2 separate regions of the Homo sapiens genome follow, and region 2 is linked to region 1. Evidence: fine-mapped expression QTL. Tissue or cell type: whole blood. Region 1 holds a variant in brackets; the other region holds the start of a gene. All regions are shown on one strand. Distances are between the middles of the regions.

The links. PIP is the estimated chance that this variant, and not a neighbour inherited with it, causes the effect.
Region 2: it holds the start of MYL5, and the variant in region 1 is fine-mapped to the expression of MYL5 in whole blood (TOPMed, PIP above 0.99).

Annotation. Positions count from the first base shown.
Region 1 is chr4:693,607-699,242 of GRCh38, forward strand. No RefSeq gene overlaps it. Among named protein-coding and RNA genes, the nearest start is that of SLC49A3, 7.3 kb to the left of the region's middle. RefSeq lists enhancers at 1-115, 1,223-1,723. The variant G/A (reference allele first, on the strand shown) is at 2,590.
Region 2 is chr4:671,535-676,534 of GRCh38, forward strand. It overlaps MYL5 (myosin light chain 5), which reads left to right and starts at 3,008. Exons shown (of 9, transcript NM_002477.2): 1 at 3,008-3,149; 2 at 4,539-4,675. It overlaps ATP5ME (ATP synthase membrane subunit e), which reads right to left and starts at 2,742. Exons shown (of 4, transcript NM_007100.4): 1 at 2,678-2,742; 2 at 2,378-2,432; 3 at 1,769-1,867; 4 at 902-985. The coding sequence starts at 2,713. The coding sequence ends at 966. RefSeq lists enhancers at 2,874-3,631, 3,509-3,578 and a silencer at 3,029-3,298.

The DNA of each region.
Region 1 (5,636 bases):
CACAGAGGATTTGGTATAAGCCGTGGAAGGACCTAGTGTTCTCATTTGTGTGTAAATGAAAATTAAAATTCTAAGCCCCCAACCAAAGGATGGACCCTCCCCTTGGCCAACAACATTCCAAATTATCCTGAAAAACTGCTTCAGGCCATGAGGGGAAATGGGAATCAGAGCAGCCTCACAAACATCAACACAGAGACCTTCAGTCTCCTTGAGTCTGATAAGCATTTACCATCTATTCTCTCCCAAGTCTTCTCCCTGGAGGCTTCATCTGCAATAAACCTTGCTCTCTACAACCTCTCATCTTAACCCAGGGATTCCTTTCTGTTTGATTCCAGGTCTTTAGATAGTAAGTCCTTCACCAATGGCCAATCAGAAAATCTTTAAATCTACCTGTGACCTGAAGCCCTCCACCTCCTCATGTTGTTCAGCCTTACCAGACTGAACCAATGTACATGTTACATGTATTGATCGATGTCTCATGCCTATTTAAAATGTATAAACCAAGCTGTGGGCTGGGCGCAGTGGCTCATGCCTATAATCCCAGCACTCTGGGAGGCCGAAGCGGGTGGATCACTCGAGGTCAGGAGTTTGAGACTAGCCTGGCCAACATGGTGAAACCCCATCTCTACTAAAAATACAAAAAATTAGCCAGGCGGGGTGGTGCGTGCCTGTAATCCCAGCTACTTGGGAGGCTGTAAAAAGTTAAGTAGAGCTTCCTCTTCAAAAACTTTCCTCCCCATCTAATTAGGAATAAATAGTAACTTCTCTTAGAAGCAAAATTTATTCAAAGACCTGTGCTAACATTCTTAAATATCTGCTAGCCATAATAAATAAATGAATGTACTTTTTTTTCTTAGCTCCCACAAGTTAGCCTAAATATTTGCCCTGGCATACTTATACTGGTCCCAGCAAGCATTAGGTCACAGTCTGTTCCTCTTCCTTATTTGAAGGTGTTTTTACCTTTCTCAGCATTCCACAAATTACTTCCTCCTTCCTTTGTTCTCCTCTGCCTTTGCCTCTTTTGAAAAGTTCTAAGTTGCTAGCCAATCGCGACCAATACAGAATGTGAGGTCCCGTTCCAGCCAATGGAAACCAGACACAGCAGTCGGGGGGACGCGTCAGGTTATAAATGACCCTGTCTCCTTTGTTCGGTGTACCTTCACGGCAAAACTGCTGGCGAGTGTGCCCTTTCTGCAGAAAGTAAGAAATGGCCTTGTTGAGTAAATTAAATTTATGTTCCAGTGCTATTTCTTTACAGCACCGGGGAACAAGCATTTCAAACAAGGCTGAGGCAGGAGAATCGTTTGAACTGGGGAGGCGGAGGTTGCAGTGAACTGAGATCTTGCCACTGCACTCCAGCCTGAGTGACAGAGTGAGGCTCTCGTCTCAAAAAAAAAAAAAAGAAGGTGAAGAAGAATTTTTGTGTGTGTGTGTGTGTGTGTGTAGGGTTTAAATAGTTAACTAATATTTTGTACATTGTGTGATCAGGTATCTACTTTCTTATCTACATGGTGTGAAATGAGTTTGTGTGTGTGTGTGTGTGTGTGTGTGTGTGTGTTATAAAATGAACATGTGTTAAATCAGAGACTTGAAGTGCCTGAGACTTTGCTCTGCTCACAAGCTAACAAGCTAGCCAGCCAATTTCACACATACGTGGACACGGGAAACATCAGTTCCCGTGGGTGGACGGGACGATGTGGGTGGAACTTGGACAGGCAGCAGGTGCATGTTGGGGAAGAACCCCAAGTTTAGGAAACTCTCTTATCCTTTTTTGTTTTTTCAGACGGAGTCTTGCTCTGTCGCCCAGGCTGGAGTGCAATGGCACAGGCTCGGCTCACTGCAACCTCCCCGTCCCGGGTTCAAGCGATTCTCCTGCCTCAGCCTCCTGAGTAGCTGGGATTATAGGCGCGTGCCACTACACCCAGTAATTTTTGTATTATTAGTAGAGATGGGGTTTCACCATGTCGGCCAGGCTGGTCTCGAACTCCTGACCCTGTGATCCACCCGCCTTGGCCTCTCAAAGTGCTGGGATTATAGCTGTGAGCCACCGCACCCGGCTGAAACTCTTTTTTCCTTTATGTGGCTGCTGGGGGCCTCCTCATCCTCGCTTCCAGAGAGACAAACCTGGTCTCTTCTCTGGTGTGTAAGTAAGCCTTCTCCAGGGACAGAGGTAGGTGGGAGGCGTTGTAGGGGTGGAGGAGGTCTTTGTCCTAGAGACGGGGTTTCACCGTGTTGGCGAGGCTGGTCTTGAACTCCTGACCTCAAGTGATCCACCCGCCTCAGCCTCCCAAAGTGCTGGGATTACAGGCGTGAGCCACCTTGCACAGCCTGGACAAACATTCTTAACGTGGTTTCAGTGACTCTGAGGACCTGGACCGTGGAGAAACATGAGGTGTGGAAAATTGCCTCCCAATAGGGTCTAACCTGCTTTAAGACTGTGAGATGGAGGCTGGGCGCGGTGGCTCACGCCTATAATCCCAGCACTTTGGGAGGCCGAGGCGGGCGGATGGATCACGAGGTCAGGAGATCAAGACCATCTTAGCTAACACAGTGAAACCCCATCTCTACTAAAAATACAAAAAATCAGCC[G/A]GGCGTGGTGGCAGGCACCTGTAATCCCAGCTACTCGGGAGGCTGAGGCAGGAGAATCGCTTGAACCTGGGAGGCGGAGGTTGCATGAGCCAAGATCGTGCCATTGCACTCCAGCCTGGGCAATAGAGCAAGACTCTGTCTCAAAAAAAAAAAAAAAAAATGCCAGGCGTGGTGGCTCACGCCTGTAATCCCAGTACTTTGGGAGGCTGAGGCGGGCAGATGACGAGGTCAGGAGATCGAGGCCATCCTGACTAACACGGTGAAACCCCATCTCTACTAAAAATACAAAAAATTAGCCTGTAGTCCCAGCTACTCAGGAGGCTGAAGCAAGAGAATGGCGTGAACCTGGGAGGTGGAGCTTGCAGTGTGAGTGGAGATCGCACCACTGCACTCCAGCCTGGGCGACAGAGCGAGATTCCGTCTCAAAATAAAATTTAAAAAAAAACTTTGAGATGGGTATTTAATGTTTTTGCCTGTCTTTTGGCAGGTAGGTATTGTGTGTGTGTGTGTGTGCGCGCGCACATGCCTGTGTGTAGTGTATGTGTCTAATTTCTCTGTGGGTATGACTGATATCTAACATTTTGTGTATAGTGTGGCATAACTACTTTGTGTATGTTATCAAATTTTTATTGAATATGTTGGAAATGAGCATCTATCTTTGTTTTTTGTTTTTGTTTTGTTTTTCTTTTTGAGATGGAGCTCCTTCTGTTGCCCAGGCTGGAGTGCAGTGGCGCGATCTCAGCTCACTGCAACCTCCACCTCCTGGGTTCAAGCGATTCTTCTGCCTCAGCCTCCCGAGTAGCTGGGATTACAGGCGCCTGCCACCACGTCTGGCTAATATTTGTATTTTTAGTAGAGACGGGGTTTCACCATGTTGACCAGGCTGGTCTGGAACTCCTGACCTCAGGTGATCCACCTGCCTCGGCCTCCGAAAGTACTGGGATTACAGGCGTGAGCCACTGCACCCAACCAATTTTGTTCTTTTTAAGGTTGTTTTGGCTATTCTGAGTCCCCTGAATTTCCATATAAATTTTAGGATCAGCTTGTCAATTTCTGAAAAAAGCTCATTAGGACTTTGATATGGATTGTGTTGAATGATTAGGTTGGAGACACCTTAACAATATTGTCTTCCCACCACGGACGCAGGACATCTTTCCATTTACTTAGACCTTCTTTAGATTCTTTTGGTCATGGTTTGTAGTTGTAGCTTTCAGAATATTAGTTTTGCACTCTTTGGCTACATTTATTTGCTTTTTAAAATTATTAGACTTTATGTTTCAGAGCAATTTTAGATTTACAGAAAAATCTATCAGAAAGTACGGCGTTCCCATATACCCCTCTCTCCCCCAAACCCTGCACTCCACTTCCCTGTTATCTACATCTCGCATGAGTTTGGTACTTTTGTTAGGATTGATGAACCGATATCGACACGATCTTCTTAACCGAAGTCCATCCTGAAGTCCACACTGGATGCTCTTTGTGCGGTGTGTTCTATATTGGTTAGTTAGTTAGTTTGTTTGAGACAGAGTCTCCCTCTCTCGCCCAGGCTAGAGTGCAGTGGTACGACCTCGGCTCACTGCAATCTCCGCCTCCCGGGTTCAAAGGATTCTCCTGCCTCAGCCTCCCAAGTAACTGGGATTATAGGCATGTGCCACCACGTCCGCCTAATTTTTGTATTTTTAGTAGAGACGGTTTTGCCATGTTGGCCAGGTCTCAAAACTCCTGACCTCAAGTGATCCGCCTGCATCAGCCTCCCAAAGTGCTGGGATTACAGGCGCGAGCCACCGTGCCTGGCCGTTGACATTCGATGTTTAACCTACACAGTTAACTGCACATTATTCCAAGATAGGCCAAGTCCATGCAGTGTCTCCAGGCTCTTCTGAGCAGGCCGGGGCTTTAGAGCGTGCTCCCTGCTCACCACACCACACGCAGCTTTCTGGTGGTCATTGCTGAGTTTTAGTTTTGTGTAAAAACACGCACACACAGGCCGGGCGCGGTGGTTCACGCCTGTAATCCCAGCACTTTGAGAGGCTGAGGCAGGCGGATCACCTGAGGTCAGGAGTTCGAGACCCGCCCAACCAACATGGTGAAACCCCGTCTCTATTAAAAATACAAAATTAAACTCCGTCTCTACTAAAAATACAAAAAATTAGCCGGACATGGTGGCACATGCCTGTAATCCCAGCTACTCAGGAGGCTGAGGCAGGAGAATCACTTGAGCCCGGGAGGCGGAGGTTGCAGTGAGCCGAGATCGCGCCACTGCACTCAAGCCTGGGGGACAAGAGCGAGACTCCGTCTGAAAACAAACAAAACAAAACAAAAAACTACACACACACACACACACACACACACACACACACACACAGGTGAACGGCTGGAATTATTTCTCCGGCGATGGTTAAATGATACTTGGGTTCAGTTGTTGGTGATGTGCCAGCTGCTCAGGGTCTGGTTCTTCTGACTCTTTTGTGGGCGTCCTGCCTCCCCATATCCGGCATCCTACCAGGCGTCCGAGCATGTTCCTAGCACGGTGTTTGCGTCTCCACCTGCAGAGTCAGGTTAGTCCTCAAGTCTGAAGCTCCTCACGACTCTCTCTTCCTCTGCTCTTGTGAGATCATCACGTCTGCGATTTCAGCCCTGCCTGGCTCCCCTGCGCTTCCACTGCTTCCCTGCCTCCCTGTCCTCAGCAGCGTCACTTACAGCCACACCAAGCTCTTCAACTGGTTTGTGAATTACCTCATGGACTGGTTTTCGTGTGTGTCCAGGACTATAAATTTTATTTCCAAGATTTCCACCTGGTTGATTGAAACAGGCATTCACTGATGCGTTCACCCAACAAACTCCCATGAGGCCTCCTCTGCAGGGCACCTGCGGGCACTTCCGGCTCCCAGAGGGGCCTGGCGTCTGGAGGGAGAAGTGGAAGGAGACTGAAGGGCGCCTGAGGTGGGCAGGCGGCACAAGCAGCAAGCGAGGGCGGCAATCTTTTTTTTTTTTTTTTTTGAGATGGAGTCTCGCTCTGTCGCCCAGGCTGGAGTGCAGTGGCACTA
Region 2 (5,000 bases), 22 kb before region 1:
TGGTCAGAGACCCCTGGTATCCAGAGCCTGGGTCTGGGATGAGGGGCTCTTAAGAGGTTCTGAGGGATCCTGCAAACAGCCCCTCTGGACGCCAGGACAGGATGTGAAAGTATCTTGCTCACTCAAAGCTCACCTTAACCAAATGTCCTGAAAAGCTTATAGGCTGCTTCTCCCTTTGGCCTTATATTTGCAAACGAACTCATTTTACAAACTGGGGCTCCAAGCCTAGATTTGCTCAAGGCACATAACTGGGAAGTAGCAAATTCAATCTGTCCATTGCAAACCACCAGGCCAAGGGTTTGGGTTGTTGGCAAGCTCACAGCCAGGAGGGGCGAGAAGCCCAGGAAGCCTGCTGGGGAGGGAAGTGGCTCAGGCACCACAAGACCACCTCCCTGCACAACTCAAACAGCACTCAGGCCCTGTGCTCAGGAGGTCACATCACCAGACTTTTAGTCCCAAGTCTGACCTGGCCACTTCCTGGGATCAAAGGGAGGATTTGTGAAATGGCAGGTTGGGGCGAGGGGTTATTGTGGAGGAGGACCCAGCTTCCCAACTGTAAGGGCGTCAGTCAGTGCCTACCCCTCCCCATCCAGGGGTCTGGGCTGCTGAGAGCAGCAGCCTAGAACTCAGAATCAAGACAACCCCAGTACTCATGAGGCCCCCAGCTGACTGACTCCATTACAGACGGCCTTTGGGGCTCCCCACCTGGATGCCCCAGACAGAACAGGCAGCGCGCATCTGTCCTTCCCACTGTGTTTACATGATGCATTCTGGGTCTGTGAATGGTAATGTGGATTCTTTTGAAACCCCCTCCCTGTCTTCCACCTCACGTGAACTGGGAGGTGGACAGAACTTCAACCTAGGAATTCCACAACCAGCGACAGCAAATGAGGAGCCGGAGTATCACACAACACAGGAAGCTTTATTCATCCGCTGCTGGTCCAAAGAGTGGGTCGCAGGGTCACTCACTTTAATATGCTGTCATCTTGGGCCGGAAGGTTAGAAGAAAAGCACATGTTACCACTCAGGCAACCTAAAAAGACCACTTCAGCTTCCCAGTTATTTTTTTTTTTTTTTTTTTTGTTTTGAGACGGAGTCTCGCTCTGTCACCCAATGGCGCAATCTCAGCTCACTGCAACCTCTGCATCCCAGGTTAAAGCGATTCTCCCACCTCAGCCTTCTGAGTAGCTGGGATTACATGCACCCGCCATCATGCCTGGCTAATTTTTTTTAGACAGAATTTCACTTTGCTGCTCAGGCTGGAGTGCAGTGGCGTGATCTCAGCTCACTGCAACCTCCGCCTCCCGGGTTCAAGCAATTCTCATGCCTCAGCTTTCTGAGTAGCTGGGATTACAGGTGCCTGCCACCATGCCCGGCTGATTTTTTGTATTTTAGTAGAAATGGGGTTTCACCATCTTGCCCAGGCTGGTCTCGAACTCCAGAGCTCAGGCAATCTGCCTGTCTCAGCCTCCCAAAGTGCTAGGATTACAGGCATGAGCCACCGCACCGGGCCATGCCCGGCTAATTTTTGTAGAGACAGGGTTGCACCATGTTGGTCAGGCTGGTCTTGAACTCCTAACCTCAGGTGATCTGCCCGCCTTGGCCTCCCAAAGTGCTGGGATACAGGCATGAGCCACCACGCCTGGCCAGCTTCCCCATTTTTAAACAATCCGCATCTACTTAGCTCTGCTTAAATGTCCTCCTCCATTTTCCTTATCCCTGCACAAACCTGGGAGGGACAATCTATAAGAGCCAGTGTCACTCGTACCTTCTGCCAATTCTCTGGCAATCCGTTTCAGTTCATCCTGCTTCTTCTTCTCTTCTGCTGCTATCCTCCTCTCCTCTTCTGCCCGAGGTTTTAGGTAATCTGTTTGGCGGAATGCAGGAGAATAAAATTCACTGGAAATGCTGTACAAAAGGAACTGAGTCCACAGGTCAAGGTATCTTCAGCGACGCTGTAAACCAGACGCACCTGCTGTTCCCGCTCTTTATGTTAATGCGAGTCAACGCCTGACCTTCACCCTGACGAGTCCAACCCAGAGGCTACAGGGCCCCTGCTGCCCACCCGCTCACGCACTGGCTCACTCGTCCTCTGCGAACAGGGACTGCCTCCCATCAAGACCTCAGCACTCGAACAGCCATTTAGCACCCGTTTTCACCAAGAAGCAGCCGTTTTCGAGTCCCCCGCCCGGGCCTCAGAAGCCTGAGCTTTGGGTGAGCTGATTCCACTATCGGGGTCACGCTCGGTGGAGGACACGGTCCTGCAGCCTCGCATGCGTCCCAAGCCCCCTTCCAGAGCTGGAGTTCTCCAAATAGCACAGGAGCTCCACAGGAAAGCCGAGCAGACCCCGCCCCGGCCCCGCCCGCGGTCACTCACTGTAGCGCGTGGCTCCGTAGGCCACACCGAGGAACAGGGCGGAGTAGCGGCCGAGCTGCGAAAGAGGTTGGTCAGAGGCGGCGCGAAACGGGGCTCGCGGGACGGGGGTCGCGGGAGGAGGGGGGGCGGGGTCGCTGGGCAGAGGTCGCAGGAGGGGTGGGGGTCCGGTCGCCGGGCGAGGGTCACGGGGCGAGGATCATGGGGGCGGGGGCCGGGGGTCGCAGCCCGCGGGGTCGGAGCTGCGGGGCGGGACACGGGGGGGCCCAGAGCACTGGGCGGCGGCTGCAAAGCCTGGATCACCTTGATGAGCGGAGAGACCTGCACCGGTGGCACCATCTTGTCCCTGACCTCCGCACCGGAAGCACAACCTGCAGACGGAGCAGGATGCCGCACAAGCCAGCAAAGCCTTGGAGGCAAAGGCGGAGCTGGGCGCACGCATGCGCCGTCAGCGGCGAGAGAGCGGGGGGCCGCGCCCCCTGGCGACCGAAGGGTGACTGCGCGCCCCCGCGCGGCGGTGACGTCACGTGAGGCGCACGCGCACAAAGGCTGGGGAGTGCGCGGAGGATCATCGGCTGCGCCTGCGCAGTTGCTGCGTGAGGCGGGATCTGCGCCGAGTGGGCGGGGGGTTTCCTTTCCCCGCAGGGCTGGGGGTCCGCTGTTTCCCCGCGCTGCTGCCGAGGCCCCGCCGTCCGCGTCCTGGCCGTGTGTCCACACCCCAGACTGCGGGCCGGGGCGCACTCTGTCTTCTTGCGCGGAGCGTCGGAGGCCTGAGGTCAGGGCGGCTCGGGCGGGTCCAGCCCCGCGGACCGCGCCCACCCGAGGGTGGCCTGGGCAGGGACCTGGGGGTCCTGGGAGCGGAGTGTGAGCCGAGTGCAGGTGGCTCCCCGGGCAGGTCCTTCTCCTACAAGGCAGTAGTGTCTGTCGCCGGCCGGGCCGCGTTGGATTCCGCGGCCCGCGGGAGCATGGCCTCCAGGCCCCTCTTCCTGCGGCTGCTCTGCCCGGGAGCACGGGGCGCCCTTCATCCCGGAGCTGGAGCTTCCTCACCCCAGGATGCCCCATCACTTCTGTCCCGAAGAGGGGCTGGGATCTTCTTGGGAAGACCAGCCCCCAACAGAGGCTGCTCCCTGGGTCCCCCGACTCCAGGCCTCAGGACTCCACGGCTCCAAGGGCCTGCCCCGGCCCAGGCCTGGGGACCACTGAGCCCCACACTGGTCTTTGCTGGCCTCTGTCCACCTCCCGGTAGCTGTGTGTCTCCCACAGCTGCCCAGAGATGGGGCCTGCGGTGCCTATGCAGCCTCCCCGCTGTGCCCGAAGTGCTGACCCGCCAGCCCCATGGACACCAGGCTTGGAGTCTAGGCAGGAGCCTGGCACCCCCTCCACGTTCTGGGTCTTCCTGGCGGCAGCCATGCTGCCCGTGCTGGGCCACCCTCGGGCCCCCTTTGGCCCCATGCAGTAGTGACGCAAGGCCTCCTGTGTCCCCTCCTGGCCCTGCACTGCTACAGGCAGAAGCAACTGGAGAACTATGGCTCGGGTCTCGCTAAGGTGCAGCATCACAAACTCCAGGACTCTTGAAGCAAGCATGGGGAGGACCCGTGATCCTGGCGGCCTGGGCTACCTGTCCGGGCCTAAGTCGCCTCTGCCCCCTCTCCTGGCTTGCTCTGGGGTCCAGGGCCTGGGCCTCTCTGGCTGAGAAACTAGGAAGTCACTGGGCTCTGTTTCCTGAGCTGGGTATACCAAGGCCAGTCCTATAGGGCAGGGGTCCCCAACCCCCAGGTGCAGACCAGTACCAGCTTGTGGCCCGTTAGGAACCGGGCAGCACAGGACGAGGTGAGGGAGCATGATTGCCCGAGCTCCACCCACTTTCAGATCAGCCTGGGCATCAGATTCCCATAGGAGCGTGAACCCTACTGTGAGCTGCGCACTTGGATCTGGATTGCGCTCTGGTGAGAATCTAATGCCTGATGAACTGAGGTGGAATAGTTTCATCCCGAAACCTTCCTCCCCAACACGGAAAAACTGTCCTCCGTGAAACCTGTCCCAGGCGCCAAAAAGGTTAGGTACTTGCTGTAGGGCCACCTGATCTTTTCTCCAGCTTCTGTGAGGTTGGCTGGCAGTCCCTGAAGACTCCTGCCTGAGGCCTCTGCCTGAACCCTGTCCTCAGGGGGCCAGAAGCAAACTCCAGCCCTCCCCGTGTCTACTGCTCGCTGAGGAAGCCGCAGGTGCACACTGGATCCACAAGGCACAGAACCATCTTGGCCCTCGGCAAGCCCCCGCTTCCGCCAGGGCAGACGGCCTCAGGTGACAATGGGTTTTCCCTTCACTGGAGTTTAAAATAATCCAGACTCCTCAGCAACTCCTGCTTCCAGAATCAAAAATAAGTGTCTCTGGGGCCCAAGGTAGGGGGTGAGGGGGACATACCAGCAGCTTCCACCAGAGGTGGGGCGGGGCAGGGCACCAGCAGAGAAAACATGCGGGCAAACACACACGGCCTGGGGAAAACCCCCTGAAGCCAATGGAGACTTGCCTTTGCTCAAGGCCTTTCCTGAGAGCTTAGTGGTGGGACGGGTCCCACCTGGCTCAGCACACCGCCCGCAGGGGCCTCTGCAGCTGTCAGGTCAGCTGT